4 linked regions of the Homo sapiens genome follow. The protein of the gene in region 3 purifies or fractionates together with the protein of the main gene of each other region. This does not show direct contact. Each region holds a gene or a part of one and is shown on either strand. Other genes may lie near its edges. The genes, in order: SLC29A1, PIGN, TMEM63A and AP3S1.

The links.
Region 1: the proteins of TMEM63A (region 3) and SLC29A1 purify together in Homo sapiens (co-immunoprecipitation; 2 studies listed by BioGRID and IntAct, with this or other methods). This does not show direct contact.
Region 2: the proteins of TMEM63A (region 3) and PIGN purify together in Homo sapiens (affinity purification with mass spectrometry; 2 studies listed by BioGRID and IntAct, with this or other methods). This does not show direct contact.
Region 4: the proteins of TMEM63A (region 3) and AP3S1 purify together in Homo sapiens (co-immunoprecipitation; 3 studies listed by BioGRID and IntAct, with this or other methods). This does not show direct contact.

The regions. Positions count from the first base shown.
Region 1 is NC_000006.12:44,219,374-44,226,595, reverse strand, and holds the start of SLC29A1 (equilibrative nucleoside transporter 1), read right to left. Parts: upstream 3,002-7,222; 5' UTR 2,955-3,001; exon of another isoform or gene 2,641-2,954; intron 536-2,640; exon of another isoform or gene 429-535; intron 1-428. UniProt on the Homo sapiens protein: Uniporter involved in the facilitative transport of nucleosides and nucleobases, and contributes to maintaining their cellular homeostasis. Functions as a Na(+)-independent transporter.
Region 2 is NC_000018.10:62,184,041-62,191,084, reverse strand, and holds the start of PIGN (GPI ethanolamine phosphate transferase 1), read left to right. Parts: upstream 1-4,028; 5' UTR 4,029-4,241; intron 4,242-7,044. Other genes in the region: RAB11-binding protein RELCH, read right to left, coding at 3,054-3,579.
Region 3 is NC_000001.11:225,879,369-225,886,772, forward strand, and holds the start of TMEM63A (mechanosensitive cation channel TMEM63A), read right to left. Parts: upstream 3,013-7,404; 5' UTR 2,936-3,012; intron 43-2,935; 5' UTR 1-42. Other genes in the region: LEFTY1 (left-right determination factor 1 preproprotein), read right to left, coding at 7,359-7,404. UniProt on the Homo sapiens protein: Mechanosensitive cation channel with low conductance and high activation threshold. In contrast to TMEM63B, does not show phospholipid scramblase activity. Acts as a regulator of lysosomal morphology by mediating lysosomal mechanosensitivity.
Region 4 is NC_000005.10:115,837,386-115,844,955, reverse strand, and holds the start of AP3S1 (AP-3 complex subunit sigma-1), read right to left. Parts: upstream 3,022-7,570; 5' UTR 2,919-3,021; coding exon 2,850-2,918; intron 2,470-2,849; exon of another isoform or gene 2,380-2,469; intron 1-2,379. Other genes in the region: ubiquitin-like protein ATG12, read left to right, coding at 3,404-3,566, 7,192-7,328. UniProt on the Homo sapiens protein: Part of the AP-3 complex, an adaptor-related complex which is not clathrin-associated. The complex is associated with the Golgi region as well as more peripheral structures.

The sequences.
Region 1 (7,222 bases), on a different chromosome or scaffold from region 3:
TTCCAGCCACTGCCCAGGGGCTTCCTAGTTGCTGGCCGGTTTTCCAAGAAAATATTTCATAATGGATGTGGGGGCACAGCCCTTCCCCCTCCCCCCTCCCGACCCCAGGGTCACCTAGTCCTCCCTTAGTTCCTCTCTGTCACAGGCTCCTGTCCGCTTCCCCTTTCTAAGAGTGACCTTGAAAAGAAGATTGGAGGGGTGGATCCCAAAGCACCTATCCTTCTGCCTCAGCGTCCCTCTCCTGCTCCCCATTTGTGTAGGGGGAGACCCCCTGGCACCAGCAGATTAAACAGCTTTCCCATTGGGTGGCATGGGAAGCCAGGCAGATGTGCACTGACACATTCCCCACACTCAGGCCTAGCTGGGCCCAGGCCTTGCTGTTTGGGGTGAAAGGACAGCTTCCCTTCCCTCCCTTTCTGGGCACTCACCAGGTGCCCAGACTGGCCAGCAGAAGGGTCAGAGCAGAGCAAGCCTGGGCAGTCCCTAGGAGGTGCTCCTAGTTCAGGCTCAGGCAGTGGGCCTTGTCCACGGGCTCCTGGGTGCGGATCCAGAATGAAAAAGGTGGCACAGGGTGTTATCAGGAGAGAGTCCCTCAGGCTTCATGGGGCCCCATTCTGAGAAGCCTTGCAAGCAAAGAAGCAGAAGCACACCCAGGAGATAAAAAGCCACCCCTGTCGCTCGGGAGATAAGAGAACAGGGAGTCTCAGCAGGGGAGCTCTCGCAGGTGCAGCATTGCTTCTGGCCCCACTCAGACAAACAGAAGCAGCTGGGCACCATGAGACCTTCCACGGGCTCTCCCACCTCCCTGTAGTTCCTCTCAACCCTCCCCAGGGAAACTCCAAGCTCTCAGAGGTCCTCCTCAGCCCCTCAGCCCCACACCTCCAGATAGAGGCAGAAGGATTCCTCCATTCAGGCCTTCGACAAATATTTACTGAGGACCTGTGCATGCTAGCCAGGCACTGTCCTAGGCACGAGGGGTGAATAATCATATTTACATTTTCTAGAGAGATGAAGGCAAGAGGGCATTACTGGAGTGGGGGTGGGGGAAAGCCTCAGGTCTCAGATTTTTTCTTTTTTTTTTTTTTTTTGAGACGGAGTTTTTGCTCCTGTTGCCCAGGCTGGAGTGCAATGGCATGATCTCGGCTCACTGCAAATTCTGCCTCCCAGGTTCAAGTGATTCTCCTGCCTCAGCCTCCCAAGAAGCTGGGAATACAGGCTCCTGCCACCACCCCCGGCTGATTTCTGTATTTTTAGTAGAGACAGGGTTTCACCATGTTGACCAGGCTGGTTTCGAACTCCCGACCTCAGGTGACCCACCCACCTTGGCTTCCCAAAGTGCTGGGATTACAGGCATGAGCCACTGAGCCCTGCCTAGGTCTCAGGTTTTCTATTAGGTAGTAGGGACTCTTCCTCTAGGTTCTTACTTCATACCCGCATACCCCGTACTCCACCCCACAGGCAAGATTCCTGGCAGTTAAGAGCAGGTGTAGCTTCAAAGCAGATGGGGGCCTAGGGTGGGGAGAATAGCTCCTGTTCTCCTGGGTAAAACTGGCTTAGGCTTAGAGAAGAAGTATTTATTTCTTCCCTGGCCCCCTGCTACACCCCTGCTCTCTCTGTTCTCAGGAGTTCCCATACCAGTCTTGGGCACAATTCAACTCCAGCCCTCTCCTCCTGCCCATATCCTAACATTCAGCTGGCCAGCCTTCGTGTTTTGCTTTTGTCTGCCTTTGCCCAGCGGCAAACAGGGATCTGATACCAGCTCAGAGCATCTGGTGTCCCTCCAACTATGCCTTGGCCTGCTGAGGTGGGCCCCTGAAAGTAGCCACCAAATTGAGTACCTCCCTGCCTCCAGACTCCCAACACCTCTCCTGCAATTCTCCACTCCCAGGATTTCATATGGGGCTAGCCACTACCTGCAGATCTCTTGTCTTTTCTTCACAACCACCCATAAGCTAGTACTAGCACTGAATAGATGGGGCCAGCTGAGGTTCAGAGGGGTTGAGTCACTTGCCTGAAGTCACAGAGCTGGTGAGTGGAGGAGCTAGAATCCATATTAAATGTTCAAGCTCCTTTTGGAATGGAGAGAGGTATAAAAGCTGCTTCTCAGTTAGCCCTGTAGACTGGGAGGTGGGGGGAACTCTGATTCAACTAAAGGGAAAAATGAGGTGGAGACCAAGATCATTCCCAGCCTGACTTGAGTGTCAGGCAGCTCAGCCCCGCCCCATCACACACATCCTGGCATGGGGAGCTTACACAAGCAGGAGGAAAGTTGGAGGGTCTGGAGGCCACCGAGAGGAGTAGGCAAAGGGACTACCACAGGGCTGCAGAGAGACCCCTAGAGGTGTGAGGGCAGGGTTGGAGCCAGCCTTGACCTACGACTGCTCTCTCCTGGTAAGCAAAGCCGAGGACTGTTTGTCTTCACCCTCTCATATACCCTCACAGTAAATCAGTAAATGAAGACGTGCGCAGGAAGGAGACGCCAGGGATACGAGTTTAGCCAGTAAAAGACCGGGGTTAAAGAGACAGCCCCGCACCTCCGCTCGCGAGCCTGCACCTCCGCTCGCGAGCCTCCATCCCCATCCCCATCCCCATACCCCTCCGCCAGCGCAGTCAGCGGCACGGCCCCTCCCTGATACCGACCAGATCGATGGGGATCACCCGTCCACTCGCCTGCCCCTTGCGGAGGTCAACGTGACCGCAGCCTGTTTTAGGCCCGGGAGCCAGGCCGCCCCGCCCAGCTTGGGTCCCGGTCCCCGCAGGGTCCTCAGGCTCCCTGGCCCGTGCGCGCCACGTGCTGCGCGGCTCCGCACGCTCCGCACTGGGGCCCCACCCGGCGTCCCTTCTCCGGGCTGCGGAGCCGTCAGGCCCGCCCTCCCTGCCCTCCGTGGCAGGCGGGCAGCGGCGTCTTCCGCCCCGGCAGTCCCCAGTCCCCAGTCCCCGGCCCCGGGCAGCACCTGCCGCAGAAGCACTGCTCCCGCGCTGAGATCCGCGCGCTCTCGCTGCAGCTTCCCTCTCCCGCCGGGGCACATTCAAACCCGCCCTCCGCTGAGCTCGCCCCGCCCTGCGCCCACTGCCACCTCCCCGACGCCCGCGGCCCCGCCCCCGGCCCACCCCTGCCACCCCGCGGCGACTCCGCGCGCTCCGCCGCTCCCACCCCGAGCCCCTGCGCCCCCAGGGCCGCCTGGTCGTGTTATTGCGGTAGATAGGACCTCTTTGGGCCCTGCCACACCAAGGCTGTCTGTCCATCGTGTGGGGTACATGGGGCTGGAGGGTACAGCCACACATTAAGGACCTGCGCAGACTCCCATAAAATTCATCTCGGGACTGTTCCATTTACACACCCGCTGCTCAGACCGGCCCCGACGCTCCACGGCCCACTCCACCTCAGATATTCCGTTATCCCTTCCCAAGCCCTGCCCACGCCGCGCTTCCTCCACACTGCACCTTTTTCCTCCCAGCGCCCTCCCTTTCAGCGCCCCCTTCTTTCTTTCAGTCCCCCTCCTCTTCTTTTCCTTCAAAACTGCTTCTGTCCCCACCGCGCATTTTCTGTGACCAGCATGATGGGTTTTCCCATCCCTGACACATCCAGTCCCAGCCACAGACGCGCAAACACCACCCCACTCACAACTTTGACTTGGAGGGGGTATGTGCCTCTGCCTGTGCTTGCGTGTGCGCGCGGAGGGGGGTGGGGCAAAGCCCTCCAGCTCCCTCATAATTCACCCTTTCTAAATCCAGCACTTTGGAAAACTGAGGCACAGGTGGGAATGGGAAGAGAAAAAGCTAGGAACAGCCTTATATCCTCAGTGAATCCTATTGTCCCAGCCATCCTGACAGGCGGAAGCCTTGCTGAGTATGTCTTTCACTAGCTAAGGAGGAAGGTGTGGGCGTGCTGAGGGGTGGTCCAGCAAGTCCCTCCAAGGGAGGGGGAGGGAGGCCCTCTCTTTGGTCGGGCAATAAATGGGGTGGGGTGGGGGGCACTCCCTGCCCTTCCAGCAGTACTCAGTGCTAGAGGATGATCCTAAGGCTGGAAAGGTCCTGAGGAGAAAATCCAACCCACGCTGCCCACCCCATGCCCACTGACCCGAAGGGCTTGTCCCCTAGAGAAGCCACAGACACTGATTAACAACTGGCAGTACCTCACATCATAGGGATAAGGTAGTCCTACCCTGTCCCCAGAGAAACAGACAGGGCCCTAAGGAGAGAGGTGGCTTTTCTAATTAGGGTCAGTGGCTCTCCCCAAGCTACTCCAGAATGGGTGTCCCCAGCCTTCTGTTTCCATGCCCCACAGAGATGACACACATATTCCTTCCCAACCCTCCCCCACCCCACCCCCATCCCCCACATCCCCGCCAGCCCTAACCAGAGGGCAGGAAGATGGGTTTAGGTGGTATTTTTCCAGGCACAGCCCCATGACTTGAGAGTGGCTTCATGTCTGTCCACAACCCCCTAATTCCTGCCCTCATGTTTGTCCAGTCTCTCTCTCTTCCTCTCCTAGCCCTCCTCTGCCCTCTGCCTTGGCCCCCTTCCTCGCTCCCCACCCTCCTTTCCTGGTCTCTGGGTCTGTGGGGGTGGCAGGGCTAGTGGTCAGAAGATCTGCCAGGCATGGCAAGGCTGGTGGCCAGTGGCTGCAGTTGTGTACAGAGGGGGCTGGAGGTGGAAGAAAACTGGAGGGAAGTGGTGAGGGTCTCAGGCCAGACTGGGAAAGGCTGGTTCCTCTCCCCACCCAAACTGGGGCCCTGCCAGCTCGGTGGATGGCAACAGCCAGGGCTGTTATTGTTGGAGAGAAGTCCGTCTGGCATCCATCCTGCTGGGCCCCTAGCCAACACCCACACCCCTCTGTAGCCACCTCCCAAGCAGAGGTTGCTGGGTGCCAGGGCCCCCTGCTGGACAGCCTGGGAGCCCCAACTTACACAGGCCTTGCCTGGAGTTTTTCTAGCCAGGCCTTGCCAGCTCTCTTCAGTCTCTGCCTGGTCTTCTGGCTTCTCTCCCTCCCTGAGCTCCCTCAGGTCCCTGTCGAAGGGGTGGGGTGGGAAGGGTTGGTCCTGCTGCACCTCTACTCTACACCTTATTCACCACCCTATATGGGACCGTGGCTTGGCCCAGACTCCCTCCCCAACTTGGCAGGCCCCATGCATGCCTCACCACCTCACACACAGTCCTCTCTCTCCCCAGGCATGTGTCCTCTCAGCTGTCACCAACAAGTCATGTGTGTTTGCTGGAAGTGTGTTTGCTTGGCCTGGGGGTTGGTAACCAGCACATGTCTCATGACTGTCTGTGTTCTCAGTTGTGTTTGTGACTGTATCTCCATGGCCTTGTGACAGGGCTGGGACTAGGGAGAGGCCAGTGAGGCACTTGCCAGGGGTGTAAAATGTAAGGGGGAGCCAAAAAACTCATGAATCAAGATAAATTTTAGGCCAGGAGTGGTGGCTCATGCCTGAAATCTCAGCACTTTTGGAGGCCGAGGTGGGAGGATCACTTGAGCCCAGGAATTCAAGACTAGCCTGGGCAACACAGTGAGACCCCATCTCTACAAAAAAAATTAAAATAAATTAGCCAGGCATGGTGGCTCGAGCCTGTGGTTCCAGGTACTCCAGAGGCTGAGGCCGGAGGTTCACTAGAGCCCGGGAGGACAAGGCTTCAGTGAGCCATCATCCTGCCATTGCACTCCAGCCTGGGCAACAGAGCAAGACCTTGTCTGAAAACACAAACAAACAAACAAAGATACATTTTAATGTAATCAAAATAAGTTTGTTTTTTTTTTTCTTTTCTTTAAGATGGAGTCTCACTCTGTCACCCAGGCTGGAGTGCAGTGGCGTGATCTTGGCTCACTGCAACCTCCACCTCCTGGGTTCAAGCGAGTCTCCTGCCTTAGCCTCCTGAGTAGCTGGGATTACGGGCACGTGCCACCACGCCCAGCTAATTTTTGTATTTTTTTTTTTTTTTTTAGTAGAGACGGGGTTTCACCACGTTGGTCAGGCTGGTCTCGAACTCCTGACCTTGTGATCCGCCCGCCTTGGCCTCCCAAAGCACTGGGATGACAGGCGTGAGCCACCACACCCAGCCCTTACCAAAATAAGTTTTAATGCAATGTCTACAAATCAAGACTCCATGATGCCAAGTGCAGTGGCTCACATCTGTCATCCCAGCACTTTGGGAGGCCAAGGTAGAAGAATCACTTGAGCTTAGGAGTTCAAGACCAGCCTGGTCAACACAGGGAGACTCTGTCTCTTAAAAAAAAAAAAAAAAAAAAATTAGCTGAGCATGTTGACGCATGCCTGTGGTCCTGGCATTTTGGGAGGCTGAGGTGGGAGGATGGCTTGAGTCCATGAGGTCGAGGCTGCAGTAGGCTGTGATCGCACCACTGCCCTCCAGCCTGAACAACAGAGCGAGACTCGGTTTTTGTTTTTTTTTAAAGACTCCATGATGAATAAAACATCAAGATTTTTTAAGTAAAGACAGGTGTGTTCACAGTGTGGGTACTGGCTCGGGGTTCGAGAAGACTAAATTCTTTGTTCAGTTAGGTCTGGGCTGGTCTTCTAGGCTAATTTTCCAGACCTCTTCCCCCTACCCTATGTTCCTGGGACATCTGTAAGTGGCTGGGGAGTTTGGGGAGGCAGTCATCTAATAATGGCCTTCGAAGGCCCAGAAAAGTGGCCCCGCATCCAGAAACCAAAGATTCTGACTCCCCTGAGACACTGTAGCCCAGCGGGTCCCCCTACTGGCCCCCTGTCCCGCCCGGCAGCGTGAGAACGGCGCAGACCTCGCCCCCACCCCACCCCGCCCCGCCAGGCCCCCCGGCCCCGCCCCGCGCACCTGCTGAGACTTTGGAGTGAGCATCCGGACTTGGTGGGGGACGGAAATTCCCAGGCCTGCGGGCCCCTAGTTCTCTCCCTCCTCATCTCGGGGCTGGGGCCATAGCCACAGCTGGAGAGCGCAGCCCGCGCCGGGCCTGACCGGTGTGGGCCGCCGGGCGGAAGAGAGGCTGCAACAGGCGACCCCAGCGCCCGCCCAGAGCTCCGCAGCCAGCTGCGTCCAGTCCTCGCGGCTCAGGGGCGGGGAGACCAGAGCCGACTCAGTGGGAGGGGCCCTTCGGGCCTGGGACTGGCGGCCGGCGCCTTTGGGCACCCGAGGCTCCGGAAAGGGACGGGGTTAGGGGCCCAAGGGCTCGGACCCCCTTCTCTCTGCCCCTCCCCCTGGGTCGCCTCCCTGAGACCTGGGAGCA
Region 2 (7,044 bases), on a different chromosome or scaffold from region 3:
TCCCCCCCTTTTGGGGATAAAACCAAAAAGGAATGATCTAGAAATACACACAAAGACATAGATGACTTTTAAAAACATGCTGAAGGCAGATACACAAAAAAATACGTTCTATGATTCTATTTATATCGAATTTTAGAACAGGCAAAACTTATCTAAAGACGTAGTTCTCAACTGGGGCAATTATGCCCTCCCCTTCCCTGGGCAATGCTGGAGACATTTTTGGTGGTCATAACTGGGGTGGCATAGGTATGGGGGTGGTTGCTAAAGGCATCTGGTGGGTAGAGGTCAGGGATGCTGTTAAACATTTTATAATACACAGGCCAGCAGCCACGGCAAAGCATTACCAGGCCCAAAATGTTGAAAGTACCCAGGCCCAGGTTGAGAAATTCTGTTCTAAGTGATCAGTGGTGGTCTAGATGGAAGTAAGGATATTGAATGAAGGAATTCTGGGGATAATAAAAATGTTCTGTATTTTATTTTATTTACTTTTATTTATTTATTTATTTTTGAGATGGAGTCTTGCTCTGTCGCCCAGGCTGGACTGCAGTGGTGGGATCTCGGCTCACTGTAACCTCTGCCTCCTGGGTTCAAGCAATTCTCCTGCCTCAGTCTCCCGTGTAGCTGGGATTACAGGTGCCCACCACCACGCCTAGCTAATTTTTGTATTTTTAGTAGAGAAGGGGTTTCACCATGTTGGCCAGGCTGGTCTCGAAATCCTGACCTCGTGATCTGGCTGCCTCATCCTCCCAAAGTGTTGGGATTACGGGCGTGAGCCACTGCACCCTGCCGATGTTCTGTATTTTAATTGTGGTAGTGACTGATTTGTCAAAACTCACCAAACTGCACACACTTAAAACGTGTAAATTTTACTGTATGCAAATTTTACATCCAAGTTGATGCTAAAAAGTATAGTGCCTGTATAAGACTATGTTAAACAGTTTAATCCATTTTTTGTTTTTTAAAACACATGCACAGAAAAGACAGGTAAGGCAACTACCATTAAAGACAGGAAAAGCAAATACCATTGGTGGGATTATGGATAATTTTGAATTTTTTGTCCTGTTGTTCATTTGCTTAGTATTAAGTAAAAATTTAATAAACTTGATGTGTACACACACACATAGAGACAAACACAAACACTTATATATCCAGTACCTAAAACAGGTACAAATAAATGAGGATAATAGAAAAGCACAGGTGCACATGAATATTTAATTGTGATATTTGATCATAAGACTCTAGTTATTTCAAGAAAGTATAAAAATGTATAATGCAAAGGCACTTAGAAGTAAGGTTTTACTCTAAAACACTGCTAAACTATTTAATGAGCTCAATTATAATTCTTTCAATACAAAAAGTTTGCAAGGAGGAATTTTCACTAGAAACAATGCTATGATAGCCCTAATAAGACAGGGTGAAAAGGTCAAGAAATTCTTTAAAATTAAATGAATAAAGTTACCAACTAAGGAATAATCCATTTCACTGTATTAATACGGTTGAAAACACAGCAGATACAATTCAGTTATGTTCATCAACAGCCAGGGACTGAGCAAAGTGTGAGAAATTTATTATAAAAATGTCTCTGAAGAACTGACCAATGGAGAAAAATGGTATTGTCAACAATCACATACAAACGGGCTAAAGGCTATGATGGAGGTTTGAAAGTGTTAACAATGAAAGAAACCAAGCAACTACCTAAGCCTGGAGGAAGCATGTACAAAGGTGACATCTTAGCTAGACCTTGTCTGGTGAAAAATCATGAGATAATTTAGAAATCTTAGAAATAACACAAAAACCAAAAAAAAAAAACAACAAAAAAAAAAAACAAAAAAAGACCCACCACCACACATAACAATTTTGTTACACTACTGTCTCATTTTATAGTCTTAAAGGTCAGCAATGAGAAAATCTTTTCCCGAAAAAGAAGATTATCCTACATATTGGGTAAGGAAATTATAACTACTGAGAAAATCCCATATCCAAGGGGGAAATATATTTAAGATTCACCTTGATAGAAAATGCACTCCCTAAGCTTCCACCACGTCTACGTTTGGCAATTTAAGTCTCTGGCACTATTCAAAAGCATAGTGATTAAAAAAAAATCAATTAGGCTGCAGTTTAAAAATTCTATATGAATACTTGTTAATATAGAATTAATATATGGCCTCATACTAAAACATCTCCATACATTAGTAAGGGAATATTTAAGATACCTCCCAAAAGGGAGACACTGGGAATCCTACATACAGTACACTACATCTTTGACAGTAAGTTTTCAAGCCATAAGAGATGCTTACGAATATATGGGGTAAACGATTACTCTATGCTGCTAAAAATCATTCCAAGGTAAAAAGGTCAATTCCTATCTAATGCAAAGAGAAAAGCCTGCAAGGTGGTGGGATGGTGAGACAGACTGCTGGTAGAACCTGTCTGCCTTGCTCCTTGGATTTCCTGTAATTTTGGACATTACTTAAATTAAGGCATTGAAACTGAATTACATCAACTTTATCTCAACAGAACAAATTTTGTGCAGCAGAAAACCCAATTTTGGCGGTGAAAAAGTCGTCCCAAAGACAAAGGGTCTTAAGTACATCTGACTTTTCGGAGACAGCAGCAGTGTGTCCTATTCTTTCTCTCCTGGCTCAGACTCAAAGAACTACTGCAGGCAATTCAGGTAACACTATTTCCTGGTAGTGTGATTCAGGTAACTGGAGAAAAAGGAAAATGCTTAAAGCAATAAACTAGTATAAAAGGGAACCTTCTGGAGTCCCGTAATAGCCAGTGAACTAGAAACTCTTGATATTTTATAGATACTGACACCAGTAGGGGAGCCAGGAGCCAAGTGCAACACCAGCCAAGGGTTGGAAGCAGGCAGAGAGAACAGTCATTGCCTGATCCTCTTGCTTCCACCGCAAAAGAGCGCCCCCACCCCAATACTCTCGTTCCTTAAAATGTCCCTATCGGGACCCACGCAGAAATACCCCCTCTCCCCTACAGTAACTCCGTACAATCCCAAATACCCTGCCGGAGTGTGACAGGCTGCGTCCACTTACTGAGCTGTCCCCCGCCCGACGCTGTACTCGGTTCCCGACCTCCAGCGCCCCCAACGCCGGCTGCTCCAGGGACCCCTGGCGCCCCCATCCCCGGCGGGGTTCCACTTTGCCTCTCGAAGTTGCCTGGATTGGAGAAGTAGTCGCGCAGCCGAGGCAGCTCCCGGCCACTCTCTAACAGCTCGGTATGCAGCTCCAGGGCGGTCAGCAAGTATTGATCGCGCAACAGCTGAGCAGCGATCGCATCAATTGATAATCGGGCCGGGGTCTCCCCGGTGCCCCCCAGGGCCACTGCAGCCGCCGACGCCTCCCCAGGGAGCCCTGGCCGCGCACTGCTTCCTAAGGCCACGGGATCCTGTGGCGACAGCGAGCCCGCAGAGCCAGGATCTAGGCCACTTCCGGCGCCCAGCCGAAGTACTGCCCGCCGTTCCTCTGTTGCAGCTACCTCGTCATCGTCCTCATCCGAATCACTGAGAAATGGATTCACGCCGCCACCACTGCCACTACCTCCAGGCGCCATCGCCGCCATCTTATCCTGTCAGGAGTGTGGGCGCCTCCCTGACTGGTTCCGACGGGCCGCAGCCCGAATCCTCTAGGCCTCAGGGGACACAGCGCACCTCCACAGCCCCGGCCTGACCACGTCCTGCCTCCCGACTTAGAGACAAGGAGTACGCTCCAAGGCAGGAGATCCGGATGCAGCTGCACCTGATGCCTCAGCCTCTGCTGCACCAGCAGCCCGGCTCTGCAGGCGTCTTCCTGGTCTCCAGTCTCGCGAGAACTGGAGCGTGCCCCTGCCCCTCTCCCCGATCTAGCCCCGCCCCAGCCCCGCCCCAGCCCACTTCAGCTCCGCCCATTCCCAGCGCCAGATAGCAAAGATTGAAGGCCCCGCTCTCCGCTCAAAAGCAAAACTCCACCCACGACTCCTCCATGATTGGTCAGAGAAGGAAGGCGTGGAGCGGACTGACGGGAGACTGGCCCGAGAATTATCGCGATAGCAGCAGCGGCCGGGCAGGTATTGGGGGCGTTCCGGAATTGAGGGGTGGTTGTAGTGGTGGCTTAGGAATACCCTCCCGGCTATCGCTTCAGTGGGTAGAGGGGACCACTGCCCGAGAGCTTTAATGGAGCTGGGTCCTGCCTTCGCGCTGAGGAGCCCTCGTTTTCGAGATCAGGCCTGACCGGGATAAGCTCCAGGTAAAGTTCAGGGACCAGTGCGCGGAGGGTGTCGGCGCCCAAACTGTGGTGTCGCGCCCGCGGACGCGCTGTTTCCCTACTGCGCTGCACTTTTTCTCGCTATTTGCTGCCAGTGGTGACATTTTGTCCCCATGGATAGCAAGTGCCCAGGCCTGTAGTCGGAATGTGACTTCCTTTCTTTTCCCTTCTCTGCCACATGCTTGCACACTCGGGAGGCCTAGCGACAGCACGACTTCTCAGCCCCGGAGGTGGTCCTGCCTGTGGGTGGGGACGGGGGCTGGAGAGACTAAACGGAAAAGGGAACGCTGAGGTTGGCATTTGCCTGGATCTGGGAACATCGTCGAGTTGGAAAACAAATTGTTAGGTACTCAATAAACGCTTAGGATTTAATACACGATTTACACAACAGGGACCCTTCAGAATATCTAATGCTGTCTCACCAGTAGACAGATAAGTAAACTTAAGCCAAGAGTGGTTGTTATAAAATCAGCTCCACGCCGGGCGCGGTGGCTCACGCCTGTAATCCCAGCACTTTGGGAGGCCGAGCCGGGCGGATCACGAGGTCGGGAGTTCGAGACCAGCCTGACCAACATGGTGAAACCCCTTCTCTACTAAAAACACAAAAATTAGTTGGGCGTGGTGGCGCAAGCCTGCAATCCCAGCTACTCAGGAGGCTGAGGCAGGAGAATCGCTTGAACCCCGGAGGCGAAGATTGCAGTGAGCCGAGGTCGCGCCACTGCACTCCAGCCTGGGCGACAGAACGAGACTCCGTCTCAAAAAAAAAAAAAAAAAAAAAAAAAAATCAATTCCGCTAATAAGGAGTCAAAGGAATTAACATCATTTCTCTTATGTCCCAAACGATTCTTTATCCACTGTCTCCTGCAACATTTCTGACTCGTTCATGCAGGCTAGAATCAAGGTTTTGGAACTTAGAACTATTTTAAAAGTTGAATGCTTCAGAGAGTTTTGATTTTTTTGATGAAATGTTAGCATATAAAGTACATATCCTAAGTTTAGAAGATCAACGTTTATCTTTTATGTCATTCCTTGATTATGATCTGAAAAGGTAAAGGAATTTCCAGTCAATACAATTAGACTGCTATTTCTTATGGCTCCTATTTTTTTCACACACAAATGACCACTTTTCCAGGCTTTAGATTTCCTTTCTTAGTGTACAGGTAAGTGACATATTACATTCAGTGTGTAGTAAACATTCCACAGTAAAGTATCTCCCGTTAGCTCCATGGAAAAATTAAAATAGACGATTCTTACATAACCTTAGGTCAGGTTATTGGTTTACATGTAAAAGTATGCCAACAGTTAAGAGTAGGCTTTAATTTCAATATACCCAGGCTCAATAAACTAAAATTTTCATTTGAATGGGGATTTGGGTTTTTAAAATTTTATTTTTGCTAGAAGTTTAAAAAAAAAGTACCAAGAATTTAAACTATTTTTTTATAGGACATTAGTTCCCAATGTTTTAATGATAAATAGTTTTCTGTGCCATATATTAAAAGTAAAACATGGGGAAAAAAATCCCCCCAAATAGAATTGAAATGGCAAATACTGTATCCTGTTAGAGATTTCTTAGCAAAAGGGATTGCTGATCCGTATTTTAGTTGGATTTTCCAGAGAGATTAAAATGGAACCAATTTCTGGAATCCAGGAATGGAGGATTAGTGAATGGCATGGGAAGGGCATGATTAGAAATGGATTGTTTATATACAATATTTCCATCTCCATGATTGGGAAATTGAGAAATCTCCTGCATTTAGGATTCCTGAAGAGGATTATGCTTATAAGATAGAAAAGCTTAAGTTCAGATCCCAATTCTACTCATTATTTATTGTGAGACCTTGAAAAAGTTACCTAACTTCTCAGCCTCACTTGCATTCGTCTATCAAAGGGGATAAGGAAAGTACACAGAATTGAGAATGTTCTTGTCCCAGTGCCTGGTACCTGCTACACAATAACTATTACTGTGGTCACTTATTAATTATTGAAATATTAGTATGTGTTGAGAACATTTGACAAGTGTTTAAAAATAAAACTAATATCAATCGTTTTGGCAGTGCAAGCCTGAAAAAGCAATTAAGTCAGTAGGGCTGAAGGGAGTATCTTTAATTTGGGGTCTCAGTTCTAAAACACAAGTTGAAAATAGATTTAAAATGTTTCCTCAGAGTTGTAAGAACTTGCATGTAGAGGAATTCTTCCCATACAAATCTGTGGTTTTCTGCTTCTATTTCTGCCTCCTATCCTATAACCATGAACTTGTGTGTTTGATCTTGTAAGCCCATTAGAAATCAACTGCCCAGTCTTCCCAGTATGTACTTTTCTTTTCCACAATACACAGAGGTTTGGTTATTCGTGAATAATGTATAAGTAACACACACTGGAATATTAAAAATTACCGATCACTACTTATAATAATGTATTATTAATAGTGTTGGGAAATTTCCTTTCTACTTAGTAAGATTTTCATTAATCTAGGCCCTTACAACTAATGTTTCATCTGACTAATGATAGTTATTAAAGCTTGTGCCTTAGCAATGAAGATGTAAAAGATGCCTTTTTTCAAAGCACGTCAATCATTTTAGTATTTAAAAAATTATTTTAGGTTTTAATAGTCTTAAAAGAACCACAAGTAATATTCTGAATGCAAGTTTTGGTTGACTTGAGGTTTTAGTAATACCTCATGTTTTATTGTTTTTCAGTGTGTGGTAAACATCCACAGATAAACTAGATAACTTGTATTGGTACATGCATATATCTTTTTAAAATTTTAATAGTTATGTGTTTGTTT
Region 3 (7,404 bases):
TTCCTGACCAGCGAGTCCTGGGGTACCAAACTGTAGACTTTCCTGAAGGATCACAGACACCAAGCATCACATGGGAGCCACCCTTTTCCAGTGTAGGGGTCTGGATGGAAACCCTCCAGCACACACCTGTGTATGCATGCTGCCCATATGGACCTTTAGGTTCTGCCCAGTGGGCTCCCTCCTGCCTTGATCTCTCCCCAAACTCCCAGAACTGGTTCTCCATCCATCAGTGCTCCTCTGTGCGACCCTACTCCTCCTTCCTCGGCCAGCACCACCTGTGGCCCCAGCCTCTCTCCTCTTTGCCAATGGCTCAGGGACCTGCTGGGTCTAGGGGAGCAGCCCTCTCCCACAGAAACCCTGGAGGTTGTGGGCTCACGGTAGGGCCCCAAGCAAAGGACTTCACCTGGGCCCCAAGGGCCAATGCTACTGGGGAGGCTCCCCAGGGTTCCCCAAGAGCTAGAATCAGGAAAAGGGAACACAGCAGCATGAACAAGGAAGGCTTGAAATGTGAAGTGGAAAGAAAAAACATCCCCATAAAATGCTCACAGAGAGAGCATTGTCCCTGGAAAGGGGAGGGTGCTGTGGTGGTGCTGGGAGTGGCATACCCTCGCCAGTGCTGCAGAGGAGAGAGGCCTCTGCGGAGGGAAACACCTGCGGCTCCTCTTCCCCCTCCCTCCAGCCCCAGTCATGCCTCTAAGTTACTTGTCTCTTGCCAAATAGGCTTCCCAGGGTGGTTTGACAAAGTTTGATATGAACTCAGGGAGGTGGCTAGCAAATACTATCAGCCTGAGACGGAGGTAAGGTCAGGTGGCCAGTCCTGTCTGCCCTCTCCGATGAGCACCCAGGTTAGGGTAGAGCTCTGGGGACCCACAATCTCTCTCAGACCTTTCAGCTCAGTCCCAGCCTGTCCCTGCCCATTAGACACATAAAGTCCAGATCCCCCTGAAACAGCTCCGTCCCTCTGGCTCTCCATGGGACAGCTCCTCTGCATTTTCACAAACAGGCACGCTCTGAGCAGGCAGCTGGGAACACAGACACCATGGGACAGTGCTGCCAGGCTGAGGAGAAGGCAGGGGGAGGGGAGCACCCAGCTGGCAGCTGTATAGAGGAGGCCAAACCAGCAGCTAGGCACTGTGGTTGAAGTGGCACTGCCTGGCTGAGAACCCCTGGCAATATTCAGTCATCCTAGATGTATGTGAATGCCTAGCACTTACCTGTGCCTTCCAGAAATTCTCCATTCATCCCCTTATTCCTACTCAATATGCCGAGGGTAGGAAAGCCAAGAATTACTGCTGAGGCCCAAGAGCCAGAGTGGGCAGCAGGTGACTTCACGCTCCCAACCCAAAGTTCAACCCATGTGCAGGCAAGCGTCTGATTGTGGCCAGTGGGAGAGGGCTAAATCCAACAGCTGGTCTAAATTTGCCAAAGTAAACTACCTATGCTAATCCACTGCCAGTCTCCATTGGCAGCAAGGACTGGCCTGGTGGTCAACTTGACAAGCTCTAGAAATACCAGCAGAATGTTGCAGGAAGTATATGGATATTGTTCGTTCTTGCAAGAAGGCCCGTACAAATTCAGGGTAATTTTATCATCACCAAATCTTTCAATCCTGTGATGACAATAGCGAAACTACAAGCAGCTCCAGGCCTTCTGCCTCAGGAGCTAACTCTGGTCTTTCAGATGCAGAATAAGGTTGCAAAGTAAAGTACAAACTTCTCCTTATGGCAACACCAAACAGGACCCAGTAACCTGGACAACTGTTTACCTCCTACCCTGGAGCACAAAGGAAATGACACAGCCCCTGGCTGAAACCAGAGGCAGTGTGGCTCAGGGATTATGTGAGCAGGCTCTGGAGTTAGGGTCTCAGCACCACGCAGTTCAGACAAGCAGCCTAACCACTCTGTGCCTTGGCTTCCTTCGCCAGGAAATGCGAGTGATGACTTTCTCTCACGGAGCTGTTGGGAGGCACAGATCCCAAACAACACCTGTAAAGCACTTAGCCCAGGACCCGGCCCTAGCAAGCAATTAGAAGCTGTCTGCCTTTATTTTAAGTCGCCCCTCCAGCTAATGGGAAACACAAGGGCAGGATCCCACCTGACGTCTTCTCTGTTAGAGCCCAACGAACAGCTAGGAGAGACCTTTGCCCCCACACTAAACAAAGGAGAGGGGCGTGTGAAGGGAAAAGGAGCCTCGGCTTCCGTTCATATCCCCCTTGAAGGCACAGCAGACTTGAGGATGACCTGAGAGGTGTCAAGGGAGGGTCAGTGGGTCCGCCACGCTGTCCACCCCTGCCCTTGAAGAGGACACCACCTGCCTGGGGCTGAATGACCAAGGCCCCTCCAGGGCCTCAGGTAGCTAGTCTTATCAGGTGCTGGAACCTTTGCGGATTTGGTTTCTTAGCAGAGCTCGCCTCACCCTTTCCGCCCCCGCCCTTCCCCCCAGTCCCCGAGTCCCCAGCCTCCCTCCTCAGGACTCCGCCAAGGCTGCAGGAAGTGGTCACCCAGGAACAGCCCGAGGGGTGGCCTCTGCCTTCCTGGCGTCAGGAGAGTCGGACGCTTGGCCCTTTCCCAGCCCGGCCTCGTATAGGGTCCGAGGAGCCCATAGCTGCACTCCTAGTTAGGTGGGAGGTCGGACTCCGCCGACAAATCCCAAAGAGAGGGGTGGGGAAGAAGGAGATACCAGCCCTGAAAGCGAAAAGCCGGAGAGGAAAGTCCTGAAAAGCCGCCAGGAATTCCCAAGGAGCGCAGGGCTGGAATGGAGGCGCTGCCCGGACCCTCTCCTCCCACCCAATCCCGCGTCGTCACCCCCTGCTTGGGGTCGGGGGCTCTGGGGTCTGCGTAGGCTGGGAGCCGTTCCGGAACCGGACACCTGGCGCGCACGTCCCGGGAAAGGCGGAGGGTGCATTGCCCCTCCTCACGCCCCCTGTCCCCTGTACCTGCGGCGGCGGCGTGTCTGGCGGGACCCAGCAGCGCGGGGCGTGTTCCGACCACTTAAAAGTTACAAAGTGAAACTCCGGCGCCTCCTGCACATGCGCAGAGCTGCGGCCACCCCTTTCCCAATTTGGAGTCTTGGCCCGCGGCGGCGCAAGCCTGTACGCAGCTGACTGCGCCTCCCGCGGTGGCCCTCGGCGGTCCTCTGCCCCGGCCTGGCCTCCTGGTCGCCGCTCAGCCCCGCAGCTCCTCCCGGAGGTCTGCAAGCCCCGGACCGGCCAGCTCACGTCCAGGCTCCAAGAAGGGATCCGCCGGGGCGCACCCTCTTCCGTCCCCCGGCACGAGCCCAGTCTCTGGACGCCTCCGGGAGAACTGGGCCAAGCACAGGGTGGTCGCGGCGCAGGGAGAGCATCTGCAAACGTTGGTCCCTGTAGTGCTTTGAATTTCCCCGAAGAGCTCTTAGACCCGCCCCGGGAGAGTGGGGTTGCGGGGGTGGTAGCATGGGGAGCTCAGCAGGATTCAGCCCGCACCTCGGCTCCGGGTAGTCGGGAACCGCGCGGAGCGCCCTGCAAGAGGCCACGGCTCCCCCGCCGCTGTAGAAGGCCGGACCGTGAAAGCCCGGAGGGTCTCCGTTCGGGCAAAAATGTGGGGGCGGGTCGCAGCATTTCCAACGCCCCCTGGGGCTAGTCCATTACTGCTCGAGCCAGGGCCGCCAAGGGCACCTACTCCAGCCCAGGTCCGAGAGCGCGGCATGCCTCCCGGCCGGGAGCCAAATGTTTCCAGGGAGCCGGTGGCCTCCACAACCGGACCGCAAGCTCGCGAGGGCAGGGCCGGCCCGCCGCGCCAGGGACTGCTGGGCGCTGCGCGGGAAGCGAGGCTGGGTTCGGGGAGGACCGCGCGCCCTGGGAATCAAGGAGCAAACCAACCCGTCCGCAGGCCCCTGTTTCCCTATCTGTGAAATGAGTGGTTGGACCAAAGCTTCCTCTCAGGTCCCTTCCAGCACCCCTCTCTGAGCTCTGAGCAGTCCTCACCCCACATGCATGCCTTTGCAGGTTCTCCGACCTCCCTTCCATTTCTGAGCTTTCATCTTTTTCTGTAACGGCATAAAAATATCCTCCTTATGGCCGGGCGCGGTGGCTCATGCCTGTAATACCAGCACTTTGGGAGGCCGAGGTGGGCGGATCACCTTAGGTCTGGAGTTCGAGACCAGCCTGACCCGCATGGAGAAACCCCGTCTCTACTAAAAATACAAAATTAGCCGGGTGTGGTGGCACATGCCTGTAATCCCAGCTACTAGGGAGTCTGAGGCAGGAGAATCGCTTGAACCTGGGAGGCGGAGGTTGCGGTGAGCTGAGATTTCACCATTGAACTCCAGCCTGGGCAACAAGAGCGAAACTCTGTCTCAAAAAAAAAAAAAAAAAAAAAAAAATTCCTCCTTACCTCCCTGTCCCTGATTCTAGCGCCAGTCTGTGGCTGTCCAGGAGTGGGGTGGGGAGGGTCTCTTCCTGCCTCTCTCAGTTCTTTTCTGTCCCATCTGTCTTTCCCCTTCTCTCCCCAAAGCTCTAGCCACTAGTTATTTTCCAGGGTTTTTCCTCTATGCCCCCCGCCAGTATCATCTCTGCCCTTGTCCCTCCATAGCTGCGCCTGGCCATCCCCCCTCCCTGCTCTCTTACCTCCACATCTGACGGTCTGCAGAGTCCTGGGTGTGGCCCCTGGACTCCCCGTTGGCTCCTTAGACTGTCCCTGTCCAATCTTTCTTCCACTCCCCACTCCCGCACCTGCCTGTCCTCCTTCCTTCCTCAATGAATGGTGCCCCCACCTGTCTGGTCTGTGCCATGGGTCCAGGCAAGTGCAAGGTTCCGGTCTTGGTAATTAGAATGCTGGAGCCACTGACAAAGATTTCAGAGAGAGAAAGGATTTCTAAATTTGTTCTTGAGTAGGTTAAGGTTATTTCAAAATCAAGAGAAGGCCTTGATGGATCGATATGTGAGTTGAGATAGCCACAGCCTTTGTTATGTCAGTTGTGTGAAGTGCTTGTAAAATCACTATTTTATTTTTTAATTTTTAATTAATTATTTACTTATTGAGACACAGTCTCACTCTGTCGCCCAGGCTGTAGTACAGTGGTGTGATCTCAGCTCACTGCAACCTCCACCTCCTGGCTTCAAGCGATTCTCCTGCCTCAGCCTCCCAAGTAGCTGGGATTATAGGCATGTGCCACCACACCCGGCTAATTTTGTACTTTTAGTAGAGACGGGGTTTCTCTATGTTGGTCAGGCTGGTCTCAAACTCCCAACCTCAGGTGATCCTCAGGATTATAGACGTGAGCCACCGCGCCCAGCTGCACAGCTCTTACAGCTATAAATTCCAGATCCTCTGAAGCTTTATTTTCTTCTCTAAGTATAGATGATAATTTTGATCACAGATTTTATTTTGATGCAAGTAGGATTGGAATAAAGCCCAGTCACTATGCCCAGGAAAGTCAAAGTGTCAAGAACAAAAAAATTTCAGTATTGGCCGGGCGCGGTGGCTCATGCCTGTAATCCCAGCACTTTGGGAGGCCGAGGTGGGCGGATCACAAGGTCAGGAGATAGAGACCATCCTGGCTAACATGGTGAAACCCCATCTCTACTAAAAATACAAAAAAATTAGCCGGGCGTGGTGGCGGGCACCTGTAGTCCCAGCTACTCGGGAGGCTAAGGCAGGAGAATGGCGTGAACCCATGAGGCGGAGCTTGCAGTAAGCGGAGATCGCGCCACTGCACTCCTGCCACTGTACTCCAGCCTGGGCGACTCCGTCTCAAAAAAAAAAAAAAAGAAATTTCTGTATCAATTCTGGGAGGGCAGGTACCATAGATTCTAGAATCAGAATGCATTTTATTTTTATTTATTTTATTTTTGAGACAGAATCTCACTCTATTGCCCAGGCTGGAGTGCAGTAGTGTGATCTCAGCTTACTGCAACCTCCGCCTCTTGGGTTTAAGCGATTCTCATGCCTCAGCCTCCCGAGTGGCTGGAATTATAGGCGCACACCACCATGCCCAGCTAATTTTTGTATTTTTAGTAGAAATGCACTCTCACCATGTTGGCCAGGCTGGTCTTGAACTCCTGGCCTCAAGTGATCCGCCCACCTCGGCCTCCCAAAGTGCTGGGATTACAGAAGTGAGCCATCGTGCTGGCCCTGAAAGCATTTTAATCCTAGTTTCATGTATTACCTAACCAAGATCTTTACCAAGTCTTGGCCAACTCAAGCTCCTTCCTTAGTTTTACAATCAGGTTGACCTAATCGCTGTAGAACTTTCTGCTCCTTCCTCAATTTGCAGAGCTTTGATTAAAATGGAAAATTACAGCCGGGCACAGTGGCTTGTGCCTGTAATCCCAGCCCTTTGGGAGACTGAGGCTGCCGAATGACTTGAGGTCAGGAGTTCCAGACCAGCCTGGGCAACATGGCAAAACCCCATCTCTACTAAAAATACAAAAAATTAGGCCAGGTGCAGTGGCTCACGCCTGTAATCCCAGCACTTTGGGAGGCCGAGGCAGGCGGATCACGAGGTCAGGAGGTTGAGACCATCCTGGTTAACACAGTGAAACCCTGTCTCTACTAAAAAATACAAAAAATTAGCCAGGCATGGTGGCAGGCACCTGTAGTCCCAGCTACTCGGGAGGCTGAGGCAGGAGAATGGTGTGAACCCGGGAGGCAGAGCTTGCAGTGAGCCAACATAGCGCCATCTGTACTCCAGCCTGGGCGACAGAGCTGTCTCAATAATAATAATAATAAAAATACAAAAAATTAGCTTGGCGTGGTGGTACATGCCTGTAATCCCAGTTACTCAAGATGCTGAGGCATGAGAATCGCTTGAACCTGGAAGGCAGAGGCTGCAGTGAGCCGAGATTGGGCCACTGCACTCCCGCCTGGGTGACAGAGTGAGACTCTGTCTCAAAAATAATTAATTAATTAAAATAAAATAGAAAATTACAAAATTATAGAATAAAATGTGTTTTATTCATGTTTTACAAAGTCTTTATTATCTGGATTGGGGATGCACAACCCACACTTAACCCCAGGTCTTAGGTCCAGAGTGGTGGTGGAGGACTTTAGCCCAGATCCAGTGACAGGACAAGTAAACAATGACACATTGGGCTTTCTGCCCTCAGGTTACAGTATCTCCACATGTAAGTGCTTAGAATATAGTGCAGTGAATAATAAGAATAGAGAAAACTGAGCAAGGGCTCTCCAGTGGCCAAAGATTCTCATTCCTGAGAAGCAAAAATTAGGTGAGGTAACTTGTCAGAGGAAGCAAATTCAGGGCTCACTAGAGAGCACAGAGCATTTGTCCATCAGCAGTTCAGTCATCGCCAGCTCTCCTGGTACCCTCGAACACTTCAGAAACACACACAAGTCAAGTCCCTCGATGGCTACACTAGGCGCCTATGGCTGGAGCCTCCTTGGCACGAGCGCACCATCCGAGGCACAG
Region 4 (7,570 bases), on a different chromosome or scaffold from region 3:
GAGTTAGAGAGTTTTCTATGTTCAAGACTCAGTGTTGACTGCTTAGAATGACAAAAATATACCTAAAATCTGATACGTTCCTTCAAGTATTCTATAGGATGGCTGCCACGAGGAATTATAGGCTGTGAACGAGAATACTGTGTCATAACAAAGATGAAAAAAATCCTAAAAACCAGGAGGAGGCTTTGAGCAAGATCAAAGGCTTCACGGAATGTTTAGGTGATGTTTGTGCTGGGCCTAGAACAAGGGGTTGAATTTGTACACGTGGCAATGGAAAGGAAGGACATTCCAGGCAGCAAGAATAGAATGACGCCCTACACAAACAGACACTTCCAACTAATGTTCCCTTACACAGTCTGCTCCTGCTATGTACAAGTTCCTGGGGTTCTTCAAACAGGCGCTCTCCTCAGGGTTTTTGCATTTGCTGCTCCTTCTACCCGGGATGCTCTTCCCCCAGATATCTGCAAGGCTGCCTTTCTTACCTCCTTCAAGTCTTTGCTCAAATGCCACCTTCTCAGTGAGAACTTACCAGACTACCCTATTTTAAACTGTCATCCTCTCACTCTCTAAGACTCTTACCCGCTTTATTTTTTTTTCCACAGCACGTAATACTATCTGGCATGCTATAATACAGCCTACTCCTTAATAGTGCTATGTTCCTCACACAAGAGCGAAAGTTATCTGTTCATCTTCAGATTTTAAAACAGTGCCTGCACATGGTAGGCATAAATTAAATTTATCCGTTGACAAACTGATGGAATGAATGACTGAAAAAAAATAACTGCCCTCAAAAAGGTTATGGTCTAGTGGAGGAAGCAAATGTATAAATAAATAATCTTAAATTATTCCTGAAAGACAAAAAAACACTCGGCAAAACCCAACTTATAGAAACTTAAAACACAGAAACAACTTCTCATACTCCACCTATAAACGGCCAGTGACCACCAGATTCTTCTTTTTATATCTTCTAGCTCTGTGCCCTCAGTGGCACTGTCACTCATACAATGGCCAAAAATGCCACCAGAGCTGCCACTCCTGCCAAAACTGCCACTTCCCACATTAACCGTCACTGCTACCTAGTAAGTGATGGTAAACAATACTTCTGTTCCCACTTTTGGACAAGGGAAAGACAGATTTCTGAGTTTCTAAATTAAATGCATTTTTCAATAGATAGTTAAATTATACACTATACGAGTAGTATACACCGATTACATGGATTAGCCAGGAAACCCACTATTTTTAATATTGCTTAAGTTTAGATATGGAAAAATAATTTTTTGAATTGTTTTACTATTGCAACATACCTTTTTTACACTGCAAATGGATGACACTGGCAAAATGGTTATGACAAAGACTCCTTCAATAAAGGCTGGTACTATATTTTAACAAACAGGTAAAGTTAATGGCATTTTTTCCCATTCGGGAGGATCAACTAGAATTTAATCTGGATTAAAGAATGATGTAGAATTTTTAAACAGACCATTAGTATTGAAGTTATACTAAATTAAAACCACACACGAGTAGCAGAAAATATTCTTTATAGCTAGCAAAAGCAAAACAACTGAAAAAAATGAAGAATAAGCTCAAGATTTCTCACTTCAACTAACACCTCCAGACTGCATTATCATTTTAGGCAAACTGACATTTTCACATTTACTTTGTAATGGCAAGATTGATTTCCATCTGGGACTTATCTGCATAAAAGTGTTAGCCTTGGCACAATTTCAAAATTGAATTGAAAGCTCATTTCTTGCTATAAGCAAAGTGCCACAATACCACACAACAGTTATACCTCACATTAATCCTACCACTGGGAGTCCAATTTTATGTGTTTCAGCTAGCGAATTCTGCCCTCAGGTAAGCACATAACTCTATAAAACCCTTCCTCGATCATCAACAAATCACTTATCTCTACTACCTTAATGCCTCCTGCACTTGTCCATACTAAACAGTATTTACACGTTAAAAGAGAAGTTCTACAAATGCTACTATTCTTCATAAATAGAAAAAAACTATAAATGAGGGCAAATTCCCATACGTGGAAAAATGCCAAACCAGAAGCTGAAATCATAACTTTTAGGTATAGAACCACAGCTCCAATCAGTCAACTACAAACGTCGCCGGTTACTTCGAGGGTAAATAATTTGCAGCCAGCTGGTAAAAAGCCTGATAAAAATATTAGGTCCTCACATATCTTCCTTTTCAATAAGGAGACACCTGAAAGTCACACTGGGCAGTCTGTCACGTATCGAAACATGCAGAAGAGAGACTGTACAGAACGTGCAGTTATCAAACGCAGGAAGCCAAAGTTCCTGTGCTATGAGAGGACCACAGTGAAAAACGGTAGCCCATCTGTCCAAAGAACAGAAAGAAGTCCACCTGGAAAGGATGGGAGTCGGCGGAGGGGGGCGAGAAGAACGAGTTCCACGCCGTCTTCCTCCTCCCGGGCTAACTGCAGCCGCGGGCGGCAGGAAGGCAGCCGCGCGGGGTGGGCTCTTGGGGACTGGGCGCAGGGCTCCGCGGCGCGGCTGGGCTGCGGCTGCCCGATCGGCGAGGGCCGGGCCCCGGGAAGTCTCCAGGGCCTCGCCCGCGCAGCCAGGAAAGCATGCAGCCCACCGACGGGCGGAGGAACCGCCCGGGCAAAGCCACGTCGGTGGCTGACCGCGCGGCAGGGAGGTGGGCACCCTGTCCACACCCACCAGGAGGCTGACAGCTGGCGAGCGCCAGGCGGCCGGGACGGGACAAGGGCCGCAGCGCGCCGGAGGGGGTCGCTCTGAGAAAGCCGCGCTGGGCGCTGCCCGTCGCCAACGACTCCCCCTCGCCCGGATCAGCGGCGGCTGGATACTCACGTAGGGCTGGTAGAACTTGGAGAGCCGCGGCTTCCCGTGGTTGTTGAAGATTAGGATCGCCTTGATCATGGCTGTGCCGGGCCGACCGGGTGGGCACTGGGGGCCAGGGCGGGGGCGGGCGCGCGAGCCTCGCCTCGTAATCTCGCCTGCGATCCTTCCCCACCCGCCCCCTCCCGCACGCGACCGCGCGCGCTCCCGAGCCGTCGGGCGGGGCCCAAGGGGCGGGGCCTGGGCGGGGCAGGCACTAAGGAAAGCGGAAACATTTCTAGGTCCGAGCCAGCGGCCTAACTGGAGTGTGCGCATTCGACCGAGCACAGACACGTTGCCCACCGCTCCTCTCCCGAGGTCTGTAGTCGCGGAGAAACACATGTTGCGTTACTAACGTTCAGAGGTCTGCGACAGCTTCGATTTGAATGACTAGCCGGGAACACCAAGTTTCACTGTGTAATTGCGTCCCCCTACTCCGGCGCCTCCTTTGCGACGCTCCCTGGAGAAAAGCACGCCCACTGCACGCGCTCAGTCGCTACTTCCGCTCTCGAGTGTCTCCAAGCAAGATGGCGGAGGAGCCGCAGTCTGTGTTGCAGCTTCCTACTTCAATTGCTGCTGGAGGGGAAGGACTTACGGATGTCTCCCCAGAAACAACCACCCCGGAGCCCCCGTCTTCCGCTGCAGTTTCCCCGGGAACAGAGGAACCTGCTGGCGACACCAAGAAAAAAAGTAACTGAATTTATTTCCGGGCAGAGAGGCGGGAGGTTCAGATTGCATCCGAGTAGGGGTGGCGGCCAGTAAAGAAGCAAAATTTAGAGGAGCGCCTGTCCTAGACCTGCATTTTGACCAGTCATCAGAAGAAAAGAAGTGTACTTTTTGATTTTTAAGGCCTTTAAGTTGAGTGTTAAAATACCATCTCTGTCTATCGGTGTAGGGCCTGATACTTGGCTGCCACACTTATTTTTATACTGTATTTTTTTGAGTTGGCCAGACTGCGAGCTCTTTGAAGGAGGGAGGGAGCTGAGTGGGGCGGGGGGAGGGGGGTCTCGGTAATTCCAGGTACTTAACACAGGAGCTAATTATTTGAGTAATGTTTTATGGTGGTAGGGGTGGTCATTGGCAAAGCCTGGATTAGAATTCATGCCTTCCAACTTAACTCGCTTTTGCTTTTTTCCCCCTCCCAGTTGGTTGTGAATTCACTCCTTAAACCAAAAACCAAATTCTTATGCAGAATGAAGACTGCTAAGGGAAAGCTAAAGGCATAGATGTTACCTTTTTAAGAAACACATTTTGGAACCTTTGTGAGTTATTTCATTGCTTGAGTCAGCTATCCTCAACCCTTTATTGCTTGAGAATGTTTCCCTTTGTAAAAGAGATTGCTAAAATTACGTGTTCTAAAGCACTCTGTTTAGAGTTAGAGTTGCCTATGGGAAAAGCAGCATATAAGCATCCTCGATTCAGAGAGGCTGATTTCGTCCTTAGACGTTTTCCCCGTTCTGTCTTAAGATGACAGTGGTCTCTGGCCGGGCGCGGTGGCTCACTCCTGTAATCCCAGCACTTTGGTAGGCTGAGGCGGGTGGATCACCTGAGGTCAAGAGTTCGAGACCAGCCTGGCCAACATGGTAAGACTCCATCTCTACTAAAAATATAAAAGTTAGATGGGTGTGGTGGCGCGCGCCTGTAATCCCAGCTACTCGGGAGGCTGAGGCAGGAGAATCGCTTGAACCCGCGAGGCGGAGGTGGCAGTGGGCGGAGGTCTCGCCATTGCACTCCAGCCTGGACAACAAGAGCGAAACTCCGCCTCAAAAAAAAAAAAAAAAAAGACATTGGTCTCATTGCTTTTTCTTCAACTTCTGCTACTGTGGAGGATAATTCTCTCCCAAGACTGCCCCCCTTCCCACTTTAAATCAGACTCCCATTTCCACCTGATGCACTATAAGTATTTCCATGGATAGCCACTGGAATCTTTCTTCAAAAGAATTCCGCAGGTTTTACAGTGTTTTGTTGCATTTTTTCTTCCAATTTACTATAGGCAAGAGCGGACGTTCGGAGATTCGTTTTAAGGTCTAACAGTCTTAGTCAAAACTTGTTACTTGACTCTGATGATAGCTGTGCAAAACAAAAGCTAAAAAAAATGGCTTACAATCTAAATATTGCCCGAGGGCATATTTTCTTGGTCTGGACAGTATTTTTTTGCAAATTGAACTGTCATTTAAGGATGAGATTTTTATTTTCTGGCTCTTGTTAGCATTTGAGTTTGCCTCTCCAATATAAAACTTAGTTTCTAACTATTCCTACCTTGTGCTTGTCATTATTTGTTGAGGATAATATGATGAAAGCAGCTTAACTGTTTTGTATCCTCAGCCTTTGTTAATCTACAGAAGAAAGATTGTTGAAACAGACCAAGGTTTTGGCACTGGAGGTATGTTAGGTTTCCTGGGGAGTAAGTGTTTCCCTAGTTGATTCTAATGTGTATCCGGGTTCAGAACTACAAGCAAATCACCTTTAAAATTAAAAAGAGAGGGCAGCTATAATTAAATTATTTTCCTTCTCTGGTTTCTCACTGTCTTACACTTCATCCTTGGTAGCATAACTCATGATATTTCCTGCTTCACTTTCTGGAAATGTTTAATTGAATTAATCGATTTATTGATAGCCCCAGGGGATTTGAGGGAGCAGTGAAAGGAGGTATGAAAGATAGGCTAACTAAAATCCCACGTTATCTCCAAATTCATTCCTATTCCTAAGATAACTGGACCTAGGATAATTAAGTAGTTCTTTAGTAGGAAGATAAAGATCATGTGTTCTAGATGCGTTCATTCCAGGAGTAAACTTGAATAAAATGACCTCTGATCTTTTGGCCCCAATATTTAATACCTAAAGAATGGAGCAAGAAGGGTGTAATAGAATAGAGTTAACTTTAGGGGGCAGCAATACACTGTTTTGCTTTCAATGTGTCTTGCTTTTTGACTGTAGATTTTTTTTTTTTTTTTTTTGAGAGGATGTCTCAGTCTGTCACCCAGGCTGGAGTGCAGTGGCTTAATCTCGGTTCACTGCAACCTCCGCGTCCCGGGTTCAAGCTATTCCCCTGTCTCAGCCTCCCAAGTAGCTGAGATTACGGGCATGCACCACCACGCCTGGCTAAGTTTTTGTATTTTTAGTAGAGATGGGGTTTCACCATGTTGGCCAGGCTGGTCGTGAACAAGAAGTTGGAAGGGGACTGGGCCCTCTTGAACTCCTGACCTCAAGTGATCCTCCTGCCTCAGCCTCCCAAAGTGTGGAGATTACTGGCGTGAGCCACCGCGCCCAGCCAGATGTATGTTTGTTTTGTTTTAGCAAATAACTTTATGTCTGAGAGACAGATTCATAGGGTTTGGGTTTGCATATCTGTGTTTTGGATCGTTGAAACCTTAAGATTTCTCTTTCTGCAACTTCTTTTTGGCTTTGGTTGTTCTATTGTTAATAACTTATTGCTTTCCTTTATTAAAAAGTTTATTACAGAAAATTTGGTAGTTACAAACAGCATAAGTAAATCCAAGTAATCATTGCCTACAATGTCACTACTGAGAAATATCATTTTGTTGCATATTCTTCCATATTTATGTGAATGTGTTTGTGATGGTTTTTAATGAATTTAAGATATTATACATGCTGTTGGAGAGATTAAATATCCACATATATACCCAGCAAGTGGCAGAGCCAGGATTCGAACCCCAGGCAGTTAAAAGTGTATGCGGTTTACTACATTCTATTTAATCAGTCACCTCCAAATATCCTTTTTGGGTATTTAGGTTTACCAGTGTTTCATATAAAAATAAATGCTTAAATGGAGGTGAAATCTTTTTAAGTGAATTTTCACACATCTCATATTTTCTTACACTGGATTCCTAGAAGTATTATTGAATCAAAGTATACCTTTATTAGGATCTGTATTACCATACTGCATTCCACAAAGGGTATACCATTTTACATTCTCAAAAGTAGTATCATCTACACTGGTAATTACTCTAATTTTAACTAGTTTGGTGGGTGAAAAGGGACATGACATTATTTTACTTTGCTTTTTGTGAACTTAAATATTGTTTGTGTATTGATCATTTGTATTTCCTCTCTTTGGAACTGCCTGTTAAGATAAAAGGCATTTTAAAAATTAGTCCTGTTGGGAGAACTTTGTAGGATCAAGAAAAAAATGATGGAAAAGAATCTAACATTTTTACATCTCTCACATATCTTCAGTATCATAAATACGTAAGATGGATGTAGATTAAATATTTCTGATTTCTAAGTCTTTTATATTCCATTCTCTTTAGATGTTTCAGTGTAATTGTCAGTAAATTTTATTCTTCTTTTACAGTTGACATTTTGCTAAAGGCTGTGGGAGACACTCCTATTATGAAAACAAAGAAGTGGGCAGTAGAGCGAACACGAACCATCCAAGGACTCATTGACTTCATCAAAAAGTTTCTTAAACTTGTGGCCTCAGAACAGTTGGTATGAAACCAATGGTGATGTTTTCCTACAAAAATTTGCAGTAGTTCCTAGGCAACAGTGAATTAACTGTTGTTTATAGAAATGCATATGGAGCCACATATGTCGCTTTTGTTATGCCCTTTTATCCCTTTATTTTTATTTATTCATTTTTTTTTTTTGAGACAGTCTCGCTCTGTTGCCCAGGCTGGAGTGCAGTGACACACTGCAACCTTCTCCTCCTGGTTCAAGCGATTCTCCTGCCT